Homo sapiens: one gene and its partner. The protein of the gene in region 2 interacts with the protein of the main gene of each other region in a pairwise test. Each region holds a gene or a part of one and is shown on either strand. Other genes may lie near its edges.

The links. Proteins that work in one complex are often made in the same cells at the same time.
Region 1: the proteins of TMBIM1 (region 2) and B3GALNT2 interact in binary tests that used the Homo sapiens proteins (3 or more experiments, as listed by UniProt).

The regions. Positions count from the first base shown.
Region 1 is NC_000001.11:235,480,332-235,487,959, reverse strand, and holds part of B3GALNT2 (UDP-GalNAc:beta-1,3-N-acetylgalactosaminyltransferase 2), read left to right. Parts: intron 1-3,444; coding exon 3,445-3,638; intron 3,639-7,628. UniProt on the Homo sapiens protein: Beta-1,3-N-acetylgalactosaminyltransferase that synthesizes a unique carbohydrate structure, GalNAc-beta-1-3GlcNAc, on N- and O-glycans. Has no galactose nor galactosaminyl transferase activity toward any acceptor substrate.
Region 2 is NC_000002.12:218,288,944-218,296,545, forward strand, and holds the start of TMBIM1 (protein lifeguard 3), read right to left. Parts: upstream 3,561-7,602; 5' UTR 3,523-3,560; intron 1,054-3,522; exon of another isoform or gene 1,023-1,053; intron 1-1,022. UniProt on the Homo sapiens protein: Negatively regulates aortic matrix metalloproteinase-9 (MMP9) production and may play a protective role in vascular remodeling.

The DNA.
Region 1 (7,628 bases), on a different chromosome or scaffold from region 2:
AACATTAGCCAAGTATTGTGGCTCATGCCTGTAGTTCCAGCTGCTTGGGAGGCTGAGGTAGGAGGACTGCTTGGGTCCAGCAGTTCGAGGCTGCAGTAAGCTATGATCTGCTTCCGCTACTGCACTCCAGCCTGGGTGACAGAGCGAGACCCTGTCTCAAAAACAAAGACAACGAAAGAAAGCTGATCCTAACTAGGTTCTCTGTGTCACCAGGGAACCAATTTTAGGAAGTTGATAAGTTTTTAACTGTCTGTGTTTATTAGCAATTCCCATTATGTTCAGCTGTGTTTCTAAGGGAGGTTATACTTCCAAGTCTTAAATATGCTGATTAGGACTTCTGGTATTTTAAGGTTTGTTAAAACTGTATAATTAAGTAACACCTCACTTTTATAAGCAGTCTCCATGGCTCTCAATCCAAGCTTTGCCATTTTCTAGCTGTGTGACCTCCTCTGCCTCAGTTTTATCATCTGTAAACTTGGGATAAAAGAATCTCCCTCATGGGGATTGACATAAGGATGAAATAAGTTGATACATATGATGTATTTAGAATAATAGTTCCTAGAAGGTGGAAGGTACTGAACATTATTTTAAAGAGCCTGCTATTTTATAAAGCTGGGTTTCAAACAGCTTTTTAAATAAATTGGACAATATATTCAGGTCTGTATTACAAAATAGAGGTTTCTTACTTAGGATGTCTGTGAATTCAGTTAACATTGTAAGCAAATTTTATGTATGAATTGTGTGCTGGGGAGAAAGTCCTTTGGCTTTCACTGGAGTCTTGTCTTTTTTTTTTTTTTGGAGACAGAGTTTCGCTCTTGTCACCCAGACTGGAGTGCAATGGCGCGATCTCGGCTCACTGCAACCTCCACCTCCCAGGTTCAAGCGATTCTCCTGCCTTAGTCTCCCGAGTAGCTAGAATTACAGGTGCCCGCCACCACGCCTGACTTATTTTTAGTAGAGATGGGGTTTCACCACATTGGCCAGGCTAGTCTCAAACTCCTGACCTCACGTGATCCACCCCCCTCAGCCTCCCAAAGTGCTGGGATTATAGGCGTGAGCCACCACGCCTGGCCTCACTGGAGTCTTAAAGGGATCATAAACCCCATAGAATGTTATGTCACTGATGTGGTATCCACTGATGTATCCTCCAACAAATTACAATTGAAAACCAAACCAAAACAAAAAGAAGCCCTTCACTTTTAAATTAACCATATTTTTATTATCTTAAGTGCTGTTATTTATTAAAAGTAAAGAAGTAGAACTTTATGTTAAAAGAACATTTTCATATATGTAATACCTAGGTTATGAATTTTTAAATGCGTATATAACTAAGTTAATATTGAACCTAATCTTATCTTTTCGATGATCCAAAGGCAGTTATGGTTATTTCAGTACCTGAAGGTCATGGTAAGCATTAATCATCGTGATACTGTGGCTGTGGTAGAAGGTTTAATAGCACTGTAATGCAACGGGATTTCCTGTGTCCACGTAACTTGAAGCTCAAGGCACAATTCTTTTAGATAAGAAAATATCTAAAAATGCTATATTATAATTGACTTATTGCTTTTAATAAAGAGGTTTCTACTATGGATATCTGTTATTTACTGAATATCTTAAAGAGAAAAAATTGTATTGTTGTCCATTATGTTGTAGTCTAGACTCTCCAGTTAGTGCTTGCCCAGCCCATGACAAAAAACTGTATTCTCCCTTTTTTCCCTCCTGTTCATGTCTATAATTAGGTAGGAGTCATCACTTCCCTTTAATCCCATTTTACTGAATATCTACTGAGTGTAAAGAGCTTCTAGGAAGTCTGACGTGGGCAACCAAATGACCTAGAGTATAGGAAGAAAATGTAATTTCTTTTTTTTTGAGACAGGGTCTTGCTCTGTTGCCCAGGCTGCACTGCAGTGGCACAATCTCAGGTCACTGCAGCCTCTTCCTCCCAGGCTCAAGCAATTCTCGTGCCTCAGCCTCCCAAGTAGGTGGGATTACAGGTGTGTGCCACCACGCCCAGCTAATTTTTGTATCGTAGAGACAGAGTTTCACCATGTTGCCCAGGCTTAGAATTTCTATTTATCTGAAAATAAGAAAATACAATCTTTATTAATACTGAATATATAGACTCACCACAATATATGCATATATTTTGTAAGTAAATAGGTGTGTGTACAAATATTTTTAACTGATGGTGTTGTGTAGTCAGCAAAATTTGAAAACCACAGCTCTAAAAGATACAAAGAACTTTGATATAATCTTTTAAAATAGGGTTTTATATTATTAAAGTAGCACTGATATTCCCTGCCTATGAACTGCTTTATTTAATGTATTCTGATTCATTTATGGTAATTAGAAAATTTATTTGAAGGCTGGGCACAGTGGCTCATGCCTGTAATCCCAGCACTTTGGGAGGCTGAGGCGGGAGGATTGCAGTTCAAGACCAGCCTGGGTAACATGATGAGACCCCCATCTCTACAAAAAATTAGCAAGGCCTGGTGGTGTGTGCCTGCGGTCCCAGCTACTCAGGAGGCTGAGGCAGGAGGATCCCTTGAGCAAAGGAGGTTGAGACTGCAATAAGCCATGTTCATGCCACTGCACTGCAGCCTGGGTGACTGGGTGACTGTCTCAAAAAAAGAAATAAAAGAAAAATTATTTGAACTGTTTTGGCACTGATTAGACAGCTGTGAGGGAGTGGAAAGGGGACTGACTTTGGAATCACTAAATGGGACTTGATTCCTGGATCTGCCACTTTCTATGACCTTAGGTGAATTGCTTAATTTTGGGCCTCAGTTTCTTAATATGTAAACTGGAGATAATGCCACAACCACAAGGGTAGTAGTGAAGATATAAATGTGATGGGAAATGGTACATAGAAGATGGTTCAAAACTGTGTTTGATATGCTTATCTTTTATCAGTGCTGTACAGCAAGAGTTTTTCAGTGTTATTTGAAGTGACTTCAGTTGCTTATTTATACCGTAATAATTGCCTGATGTATCACAAGTATTTTAAATTGCCTAACAAGAAGTAGGATTTTTGGAATTTGCACAGTAAGACCAAATTTACTGATTATTTATGACTACAGTCAGTACTGTTTTTCTTATTTCTATTTATCCAACCCTTCCAAATAGATGCCTTCCAGTTGACTTAAATTTAATATCTCCTGTGGCGTTTATACATATATATGCACACATTTATGCAAAAAGCTATTAAAGCAGTTCTGATAATTAACTTACTTAGATGTGGCTGAAAACTTTATTCTTAAATTTCAAAAATGTTTATATAGAAGCAGCCATTTTTCTCAAGCATTTTTTAAAAATTCCTGCCATTTGTGAATTATATAGCAAATGATTACCTAGGTTTTGGCATTAAGCCCACTTCACTACTTCTTACTAGTAAAACAAAGGATTACATTTGTTCAGTTATATAAACCTGTTCTCATTACTTAGTTTTGAATCAGGAAATTGAAGCGTTCAGTCTGTCCGAAGACACTTCATCGGGGCTGCCTGAGGATCGAGTTGTCAGCGTGAGTTTCCGAGTTCTCTACCCCATCGTTATTACCAGTCTTGGAGTGTTCTACGATGCCAATGATGTGGGTTTCCAGAGGAACATCACTGTCAAACTTTATCAGGCAGAACAAGAGGTATGCACTGCTCTGTACAGGTTTTTTCTCTTTTTTCTTTTTCAAAAACATCAACTTTTCCTTGTGACATACAGTAAGTAGATTGGAAGACTATATAATTCTCTCTGGTTGAGAGACTTTCACCTTTCTTCCCCTATTGACTAAATACACTGTAGTGTGATATAAGACTGGTTTGGGGATAGATTATCTGTGAATAAATGTGCTATATCTAGAAGAGAAGGAGTTGACTAGATTAGAAATCTCCAACCTAAAATTCCCTAAAACCTAGGGAATTTCAAAAGTTGGTAATGGATATAAAAAAAGTTTAGGATTCTTAGGATAAGTGAGTATTATTGCCTCTTACTTCCAACTGTAGAAGTCTGTAATACAAGGCTAATAACTGCTTCAAATCTTTTTTGTAATAAGGATATAGAGGGAATAAAAGTTATTCTTTTACAGAAAACAGAAAACCAGTGAGGTTTCTCTATTCCCGATATGTAGGGAAATCTGATTTGTTCACAGAGTGCATGTGAAGTAGCAGCATGGAAATGTATTTGAAGGATCTGTTTTTTAGTTTTAAACATGAAGAAAACTTGAAGGAATTATTCAGTAAACCCTATAGCCACTAACTACATTCTACAACAATTAACGTTTTCCTGTATTTGGTTTATTACTCCTAAGTAGCTGGGATTCTAGGTGCATGCCACCACACCTGGCTAATTTTTGTATTTTTAGTAAAGATGGGATTTTGCCATGTGGGCTAGGCTGGTGTCAAACTCCTGACCTCAAGTGATCTGCCCTTCTCGGCCTCCCAGAGTGCTGCCTCAGCCTCCCAAGTAGCCTCCCAAAGTGCTGGGATTACAGGCGTGAGGCACCGCACCAGGCCTGGTGTGCTTTTTCTTTGTCTGTTTTATTCAGGGCGTGCTACATGTTTCTTCAATCTGTAAATGTATGTATTTTACCAAATTTGGGGGATTTTCAACTATTAATGTCTTCAGAACCTTTTCTGACTTCGCTCGCTCTCTCTATTCCTCCTGGGATTCCAGTTACATGTATGTTAGATCTTTTGGTATTGTCCTGCAGATCACAAGACTGTTCATTTTTTTCAGTGTTTTTTCTCTTTTCTAATGTAGATAACTTCTGTTCATCTGTATTCAAGTTTAGTGACTCTTCTGTCATCTCAAATCTGAAGTTAAGCCTATCCAATGAATTTTTTATTTTAGATTTATTTTAAATATTATACTTTTTAGTGCTTCAGTTTCCATTTAGTTCTTTTTTACTGTTTCTATTTCTCTAAAATTTCCTATGTGTTCATTGTTTGAGAATATTTTTCTCTACAGCTTTGACCATAGTTATAACAGCAGCTTTAAAATCTGTGTACGCTTATTCTGAGTCATCTCAGCGTCTGTCTTTATTGATTATTATCTTTCCTCTAAAATATGGGTAACATTTTTCTGTTTTATGTCTAGTATTTTGGGGGGTTTTTTGGTTTGGGTTTCGGTTTTTTTGTTGTTGTTTGACAGGGTCTCGCTCTTTTACCTGAGCTGGAGTGCAGTGGCACAGTCGTGGTTCACTGCAGCCTTAAACTCCTGGGCTCAAGCTATCCGCCCATCTCAGCCTCTTGAGTAGCTGGGACTACATGCTACTCATGCATTGTATCCTAGATATTGTAAATAATTCATTGTAGGAACTCTGGATCCTATTATATTCCTCAGAGTATTGATTTTTTTTTTTTGTTTTAGCAGGCAGCTAAATTGGCTGGACACAGACTAAACATTGTCTCACTTGCAGTGAGAAACAGCTAAAATCTCTATTCAGTTTCTCTGGCCTTGGATGGGCTACTTGGGTTCTGCCTTGTATGTGTATTTCATGAGTCAGCCACAGATTTGGGTAGAGTTTATATGAAGAATTTGTGGTTCTCTCTCTCTGTGATCCTTTCCTTTCTGGGAGGTTCCCCCTAATGCCTTTTATTAATTGATGTGTTTGCCCCAACTCTGTCCTCTTAATTTTCAAGCAGAAAGACTACAGATTTTCATTCAAATTTCTAGTTACCCTAGAGTTGTATCCTCAGACAAAGAGTCAAGAAGTGGGGTAGGGAGGAGATGCATATTTGGAGCCTTTTCCTTCTTCCAAGTACTGATTCTTCTCTAGTTTCTGCCTGTTTGTTTGAATTCCAGTGCCTTCAAATCATTGTTTTTTATGTTTCATCCAGAGTTCATAGTTACTATCTATAGGAGAATTGGTCTGATATTACTGGCAGCAGAACTCTGTTCAGTTTTTTAAAATGTGTTTGTATTATTAATGTTGATTATTAGCAATGAATATAATGTTAGAGACTCATCAATAAATACACAAATAAATTTGAGATTAAATTTCTTTTTTGGAATTTGCCCTGTTCTTCCTCTAAATAATCTGTCTCGTTTGTTGATGTGTTTATAGACATAAATATAAGACAGAGGGAAGAGTAGGATTTCTACTGATGATGCCAGCTATAATGATTAGTGAGAAGAGCTTTGTATACTCAACTATAGGAGTCCATATATGATTGTAGTTAACAGTTTCATTGATACTGAAGATCAAATAGGTAATTGAAATAGCAGTACTCTGAGTATCACTGTTATCTAGAAATTAGAATTAATCTTGAATTTTTTTGATACACTTGTTTATCTTAGTATATATAGTTTAAAAAAAAAACTATCAGCCAGGCGCAATGGCTCACGCCTGTAATCCCAGCATTTTGGGAGGGCAAGGCAGATGGATTGCTTCAGCCCAGGAGTTAGAGACCAGCCTAGGCAATACAGTGAGACCCCATCTCTACAAAAAATTAAGAAAATAGGCAGGCATGGTAGCATTTGCTTACAGTCCCAGCTACTTGGTAGGTTGAGGTGGGAGGATCACTTGAGCCCAGGAGGTCGAGGCTGCATTACAGTGAGCCGTGATTGCACCACTCACTCCAGCCTAGGTGACAGAGTGAGACTGTCTCAAAAAACAAAACTATTTATAGTGTGCGAGTTATCAATCAAGTAGTTTGGTTCAGACATACAATATTTTGATCATGTCGATATAACTTCTAGTTGCCATATTTTTAACCAGGGAGGAGTTAATCTTTGTCCTCAAGGAAGGACTAGTCTAAGATGGATGCTAATGGGTTCATGGGTAGTCACGATGCAAAAACTATTCTTATACTGCATTGCTAAGAACTGGTGTTCATGAAAGAAATAGACATAATCCATTGAAATGTGCTTAATTTTGAACCCCTGCATGGTTTTAAGAGCTTAACAGAAGTTTCCCCTATGGTTAAGTTGGTATATAAGAATAGGCATGAGAATGAGGAAATGTTGCCTGGAAGAAATGGGAGAACCCAAGAAAACGATAGACATAGTGAAAATCAGTCCGGTTTTTTTTTTTTTTTTTTTTTTTTTTTTTTTTTTTTTTTTGAGACAGAGTCTGGCTCTGCGGTCCAGGCTGGAGTGCAGTGGTGCAGTCTTGGCTCACTGCAGCCTCCACCTCCTGGGTTCAAGCGATTCTCCTGCTTCAGCCTCCTAAGTAGCTGGGACTACAGGTGCCTGCCACCACACCCAGCTAATTTTTGTATTTTTAGTAGAAATTTGGAGTTTCACATGTTGGCCAGGCTGGTCTGGAACTCCTGACCTCAAGTGATCTGCCTGCCTCAGCCTCCCAAAGTGGTGGGATTACAAGCGTGAGCCACTGCACCTGGCTCCAGTCCTCTTTTATATTCCCTTTTTTGTTTTGTTTATATTTTCTTCTGAAGATTCTTTTTGAACGGAGTTTCCTGAGTGCTTTTGTTCCCAGTAAAAATCTGTGTCTTTCAGTTTAGTTTTAACCCTTTGGGGGAGTGTTGACACTATAATGTGTTGGCTTAATTTAACAACACTGCTCACTTCCCTGAATATTTTTTCTTTCAAGGTGGGTTTTTTTTTTAAGGTTATGTGGATTATGTTTAGCATTTGAGAATTTCGTGACAACTTTGATTACCTTAAATATCGTTAT
Region 2 (7,602 bases):
ATGAGATAACTGAAATTCAGAAAAAAAGAGATCTAGGGTCCCACAGCAGGCAAACAGCAGAGATGAGTTTAAGCATAGATCTCACACCTGATTTAAAATTCAGCCTCTTTGCTTTTATATCAGGCAGGAGTAGAAGCCCCTGAGGCATCTGTAGCACGCACCTGCGTGAATAGGCAGCACCAGGGTGGGGCCAAGGCAGTAAAGATCAAAACGATAGATAGAAAGGAGCTGAGCAAGCTGTTGTTGCTACCATTATTTCTTTCCCCTGCGGAAAGTTGATCTGAAGCCTGGGTCCTGGGCTAGGAGGTGGGGACCTGAAGTTCTTGTCCTGGCTTTGGGACTCACTCCACTGTGAGAGCCACATCTCTAGACCCAGTTTTAACATCAGTAAGACAATTCCCCTCAAATGAAAGAATGGCCAGGCGCGGTGGCTCATGCCTGTAATCCCAGCACTTTGGGAGGCCGAGCCAGGCGGATCACTTGAGGTCAGGTGTTCGAGACCAGCCTGGCCAACATGGTGAAACCTCGTCTCTACTAAAAATACAAAAATTAGCCGGGCATGGTGGCACATGCCTATAATCCCAGCTTCTCGGGAGGCTGAGGCAGGAGAATCACTTGAACCCAGGAGATGTAGGTTGCAGTGAGCCGAGACCATGCCACTGCACTCCAGCCTGGGCGACAGAAAAAAAAAAAAAAAAAAAAACTGAAAGATCAAAGTCCACTCTGCCAGTTTCTGATTCTGAATGAACAGCCTAACAGGAGGCTTCAGGGCAGAATGGCATGGCTCCCCAAGAACCTACACCAGGGGGTCACTACTGATGTGCAACTGTTTCCAAGGACATCTTCAGAGGCAGAAGTACATGGCATGTTCTCAGTATGGGGCTGTCCACACCCTCCCAAACTGTCCCCATAATGCTGTCTGGACCCTACGGCCAGCTCTTCCTGGGTGATCAGTTACGCCCGAGCTAAACAGTATATAACACTCTAGGAAAGAAAGAGTAGGAGGCAGGAAGTCCACTGACCTGGGTTCATGAACTAGCTGCAGGAATCCAGGCAAATGACCTCCCCTGGCCTCCTTTTATCCCTAAATCAGCCCACGTGGGGGAAAGGAGTAGGGACTTGTTTATGGGAGCCACAGTGGAGAAACAGAATCACCTAGCCAGGCATTTCCCAGACTGTTCTAAAGAACACGCCCCAGGAGACGTTAATGAATGAGTGCTGGAAACAGATGACTCTTGAGAAACAATCCACACCCCCTTCTTGGAAATTCACAATGGCATATTCTGCCCCTGAGAAGTCCTGCAGTAAGCAACCCTGTTCAGCTTTGTTTAACCCAGTGTTCCTTCAAACTCCCTTAAGCCTGAGCCACTTTTATCGAGGCAAACCTATTAACACCCTGTGGGATGCTGACCCAGGCCACCTTTGTATTACAGACACCCAACCCTGAGAATCATTCATATCCTAACTCCTCGTCTCTTATAACCTCTGTGCGTACACCCAGCTGCCCCTCAGAGCAGTCACATGAAGTACTAGACATGCCCTCTCACTCTCAGGGGGTCAGCCCAGTGCCAGGATCTCTGGCGAGGGTCCTCCCCTTCCCCCATTCCACACAGCTGCTATCCCACCGTGGGATTTACTGCCAAGGGCCGGGGGACATATCCAGCTACCACAGAACCAGGAAACGGGCACCCCTAACCTCACCTCTGTGCAACGGGGCAAAGCACAAATCATTACAGACAAAAGTGGGAGCTCATTAATATCTCCCTTCCCACCAATGGAGGTACCTGCCACTGTAGCCTGTCGACTTCTGGATATCATTTCTACTTCAAAACAAGACCCAGGTTTTGGCCTAGAATCCCAGAATCTTAGGGTTGGAAGATTCTGTCAAGGTCATCCCTTCCACTGTGTCCCCAACAGAATAGGTCCAGAAGGCCCATGTCATGATCAGACATGTTGTTAGCAGAACTTCTTCCCAGAGAATTGTATGAGCTTCCACTCTCTGGTCGTCCCAGTTCAGCCCTCTGAAAACACACAAGTATGTGTGTTTCCCTTCTCTGTGGCTTCTGCTTTTTCTGAAAGGCCCAGGGTGAGGCCTGCGGTTGGAGGTGCTCTGAGGTAGACAGCGTCTGGCTGAGGCACCCATTCCCAGGGGAGGAGGCTGAGCCCAGGTGGCTATTACCCCAGCTCATGACATGAGGCTCTCCCAACACTTACAGGATAACCCATCATTACCTCTCTGAAGGGCTCATTTTTACAAGTGAGGCCTTGAGGTCATAGCACAGAAAGACAGGGCCCCTGACACTGTGGTCCTGCCTCTTCCATTTAAGCTATAAACTGGTTCTCTGGATCCTCATGACTGGAGAGACAGAGAGAGGAGGCAGGTGAGAAGGAAGTATGGCTCCCCCTTTGCGCCAATAAAGCAGCCCCAGGAGGCACCTGGCTCCCCTGCCACCACTGGCCAGCCCAAAGTCGCCAGCTTGGAAACCAAAGCTCACTAATGAGATGAATATTTCAGAGCCCAGAGAACTGGACACCTGAGGGCCCTTCCATGACATCTGGCTCTGACCTGCGTTCCCAGGCCTACTTATCCCATGTCCAGGGTGCTCAGGTAGAACCCCAAACTCCTGGGTACCACGTAGAGGCCACAGAGGAGGGAGAGGAGATGGAGACCCCATAGGACAAGAATTGGTGCCGACCCCACAAGGCCAGGGCCTGGCCTCCCAGCAGCCTCCCTCTGCTTCCTCCCACTGGTCCCTGGCTCCTGCCCCAGTCTCTCCACTTGCTTTCCCTTTTCCCGTTTCTCTGTTTTGTTTTCACTCTAACCCAAAGAAGTCACGAGGAGGATGTTACTCCCCTGTAGTTCTGTGAACCCAGCCGGGAAACAGTGGCTGGAAGTGGGACTGGCAGAGGGCAAAGTCATGGTGATAGAGGTGGCCACTTCCCCATGCCAAACACTTGAGCTGCTCATTGGCTTCTGCCCCAGCTGCAAGCTAGGACCCCCCCTTCCCCACCCCTTAAATATTCACCTGTCTACACCGAGACTGGCCTCAGCGCGTGTGGGGGCAACCTGGGGTCCGTGCCAGGCCCTGGCTGTCTCCCCTCCCTCTTCCCTCTTCTCACCAGCTGAGGGCCATGAAAGCCCTCATCCCACACAGCTGGCCACTCGGGCTGGCATGGTGGATAGGCCCTGCGACAGAGAGGCCACTCGTGCCCGAAAGAGGGAACACGAGGACACCCCCAGACCCTGGCTCCGCTCACCAGTGCCCACAACACGCTGCTGGGCTCCCAAGGCTAACCAGGTGCCACAGACCCGGCCGCCCACCCGCGCGCCCAGGGAGAGCGAAACGCCAAGGGCCAGGAGGGGAGATCCCCATCTGGAACGGGCTCCTTGGGCCCAGGAGCGGGCAAGCCGGGAGCGCGCTCCGAAAAGTTTAGGCGCCCCGGCGCATGGCCGCCCCAGCCCTGGACCAGTCCCCACCGCCCACAGTCCCCAACGGCGCCGGCCCCGGCCCCCTGGCTTGCCTGCGCCGTTCCAGACGGAGCGTTCCTGGCCTCGGAGTGTTGCAAGTCCTCCGGGGCCGGGCAGGGCTAGGCTCGGCTGGGGCTCCGCGCCCCGCCCCGTCGCGCCGGCCTCGTGGGGCGGGGCCTCAGGGCGCCGCCAGGGGGCGCAGGGGTCTGTCCCGGGCGCGCGCGCCTCTCAGAGCCCCGACGACGCCTCACTAATAACACAGGGGTATTTTCGGATTTAAAGGCAATACATGATACTGATAGGAAGCTAGAAAAGACACAGAAATGCAGGGAAGAAAGTAATTTCTCTCCACCCCTCCTAGTTCCCAGGGGGAAGCGTTCGCTTTGGGTCCTTCTTTGGCTATTACATTTCTGTATGTATTTTGTTTTTCTACAGTGGGGTATATTGTATGGTGTTTTGTTTACTGCCCTTCTTTTTACTGTTTTATGATGAACATTTTTCTTCTCACTAAATAGTCTTCAAAAGCACAATCTTAATGCCGTGAAGTATTCCATTGCATGGCTATGCGGATTAAATTAATTTCCTACTGGAGGCCGTTTGTTTCCCATTTTTACATTACAAATAAATCAGTAATTAAAATCCTTGATAATTCTGTGTTTTTGAGATAAATGCACTTTTCGAGTTTAAAACTGCAAACATGCAAACCTAGAATCTCTGTTTATAATTACTCAACCAGGAAAGCAGGTGCTTTCCTCAAGTCAGAATTCAGAAGTCCTACATTGAGATGTAGATTACTACTGTTAGGTAGGTCTTAACCCTCATCTCAGTGAAGAATGCAGTAGCAAAGGAGGAAACAGTTTTGAGGAAGTTCTGAAATATTACTGGAGCCTGGGCATGGTGACTCACACCTGCGATCCTAGCACTTTTGGGAGGCCAAGGCCAGAGGATGGCTTGAGCCCAGGAGTTGGAGACCCAGCCTAGGCAACATAGAGAGACCTTGTCTCAATTTAAAAAGAGAAACATTACCGAGCCTTGCCTGAGTTTCTGTGGTTCCAAAGTCCAAGTTCTTTCCATGACACCAAGGCTGCCAGTAGTTGACCAACTCTGTTTAAAGTGCTTATCTCATGTTAATAGCTATAGGTCAGCACCACACCACCACTGAATGTCCTTTTTTTTTTTTTTTTTTTTTTCCAGACAGGGTCTCGCTCTGTCACCCAGGCTGGAGTGCAGTGGCGCCATCTCGGCTCACTGCATCCTCCTCCTGGTTTCAAGTGATTCTCCGGCCTCAGCCTCCTGAGTAGCTGGGATTACAAGTGTGTGCCACTACACCCAGCTAATTTTGTTTGTTTGCTTGTTTGTTTTGTTTGGTTTGTTTGTTTTGTAGAGATGGGTTTTCACGTTGTTGCATAGGCTGGTCTCAAACCCCTGAGCTCAAAGCAGTCAGCCCACTTTGGCCTCCCAAAGTGCTAGGATTACAGACATGAGCCACCACGTCCAGCCCCAAAACAGAGATTTAAAAAAAAAAAAAAAAAAAAAAGACAGATTTTTAAAAACTGCCCCCCATACACACACTATGTATGTTTATTTCTGTAAATATAGTTTAAGTAGGAGTTACTTAGGGGGACTAGTGGCCGTTATGGTGGGCTAGCTCCCCAGACACCCCAACCCTTCAGTGTACTTCCAGTTCCTACAGGCCAAGAACCTCATTTTAGGAAGTCCCCACCCAAGGTGTGATCTCACCAGAGCAAGTACAGTTCTGCTCAGTGTCTGTCTCCCCCTTGCTCAAGGAGTAGCGCCCTAGGTGAAATGCATGGCCCATGGAATCTGTCCAGATCCCTGACATTTTTTCATGCTCTCTACACTTGTGCTGTCTTAGTCCATCTGGGCTGCTACAACAAAAATACCTTAGAGTGGGTAATTTAGAAACAGCAGAAATGTATTGCTCACAGTTCTGGAGGGTGGGAAACGCAACATCAAGGCACCAGCAGGTTAGGTGTCTGATGAAGGCTCCCTCTGCTTCACAGATATCGTCTGAGTCCTCATATGGCCAAGGAAGGAACAAACAGACACCGCCCCCCCACCAGCCTTCCTTTTTTTTGAGATGGAATCTCACTCTGTGCAATGGCACAATTGCAGCTCACTGCAGCCTTGACCTCCCATGTACAAGCAATCCTTCCAACTCAGCCTCCTGAGTAGCTGGGACTACACACATGCACCACCACACCTGGCTAATTTTTGTATTTTTTGTAGAGACAGGGTCTCACTATGTTGCCCACGCTGGTCTTGAACTCCTGGGCTCAAGCAATTTGCCCTCCTCCACCTCCCAAAGTGCTGGGATTATAGGCGTGAGCCACTGCACCTGGCCACCAGCTTCTTTTCTAAGAGCATGAATTCCATTCCAGAGGGTTCCGCCTTCATGACCTAATCACTTCCTAAAGGCCTCACCTTTTAATACTATAACATTGAGGATTAAGTTTCAACAAATGAATGGAGTGGGGACAACAACATTCCCACCATAGCAGGCCCCTTCTCCAGAAAACACCCTCCACTTTCTAGAACCACCAGGATGGTTAATATCCAAGGAGATTCCATTTCCAACCAGCAATCACCAGCGACTCACATCTGCCCGACTGGGGGAGTGGGACATGGGGCACACGAGGCAAGCCCACACAAGCCTTGCTGCGTGCTTTTTCTCCAGAGCCCTTTTTCTGACTATAGGGTCAAAAATAACACCTGAAGCGCCTGGCCCAGAGCAGCAGTGCTTCGCTGGCAATAGGCATTCGATAAATGATGTTTTTTTCTCTTGGGCCTTATCTGCAAAATTATTAAGTAAGCTTTTATTGTCTGCCAACCAGACAGGAATTTCCGGTTCTAGAAATGAGAAGGCTGAAAGAACACAGCCCCTGCTCTCAAGAAACTCACAGTCTAAGGGAGCCAGTAAAATGACAGATTATTACAATGTTGACAGTTTGACAAGTGCTGGCAGATAAAGAAATATTCACTTGGTTCCTCCAGATCCCAGAGAAAGCTCCTAACCCAGTGTGGGGAATGGGGTGGGGGTTCGGGAAAGGAGTTCAGAGGAGGTGACACCTGAGTAGAGTGTTAGGAGGTGTTAGGAACCAGCCTATTCGGAGGAGGGGAGAAGGTTCTCCAGGCAGAGGGCAAGGGACTTAGGGCCAGTTGCCCCAGCAAGCTAGGATGGGGGGTGGAGGGTGCAGTGGGGTAGAAGGGGTAGGAAATAGGGCTGGCCAAGGAGGCAGGGGGCCAGAAATTGAGATTTTACCCTGAAAGCAATGGGGAGCCAGAAAATAACCACCTAGAGGGAGTTTGGGAGGGTTGGGGAGGCTCTGGTGGTGCCCCTGGGGTAGGGTTCCAGCTTTAGCAAATAAAGATGCAAGGCAACCAGTTTGAGCTTCAGATAAACAACAAACCTTTTTTTTTTTTTTTTTCAAGACAAGGTCTGGCTCTGCACTCCCAGGCTGGAGTACAGTAGTGCGATCTTGGCTCGCGGCAACCTCCACCTCCCAGGCTCAAGCCATCCTCCCACCTCAGCCTCTCAAGTAGCTGGGACTACAGACATGAGCACCACCACGCCCGGCTAATTTTTGTATTTTCTGTGGAGACAGGGTTTTGCCATGTTGCCCAGGCTGGTCTTGAACTCATGAGCTCAAGCAATCCATCCGCCTCACCCTCCCAAAGTGCTGGGACTACAGGCATGAGCCGCTGCGCCCGGCCAAACAATATTTTTTCATATAAGCATATCCCACTGCCCCATATAATATTTGGAAATACTTGTACTAAAAAAAAGTACTCATTGCTTATCTGAAATTCACATTTAACTGGTTGGTTGTATTTTTCCAGCAACACTACCTAGGAGGAAAGTGGAGTCAAGTCCATGGCTGCAGGAAGAGGGGTGGAGGAGTGAAAGGGATTAGACTGATGTTTATTTTAGGACTGGATGTTATTTTAGGTATTTTAGGACTAGCTAAAGCTTAGTGATTGGTGGGAGGGGGTGGTGGCAGCCTGGAAGGGGTGGGCCCAGGTGGAACCTGAAGGACATGGGCAGGAAAAACTTAATTGGAGCGGTGGATCCAGAGAACTTTCTCTGTTGCCACCCTCCAGCCCAGCCCCAG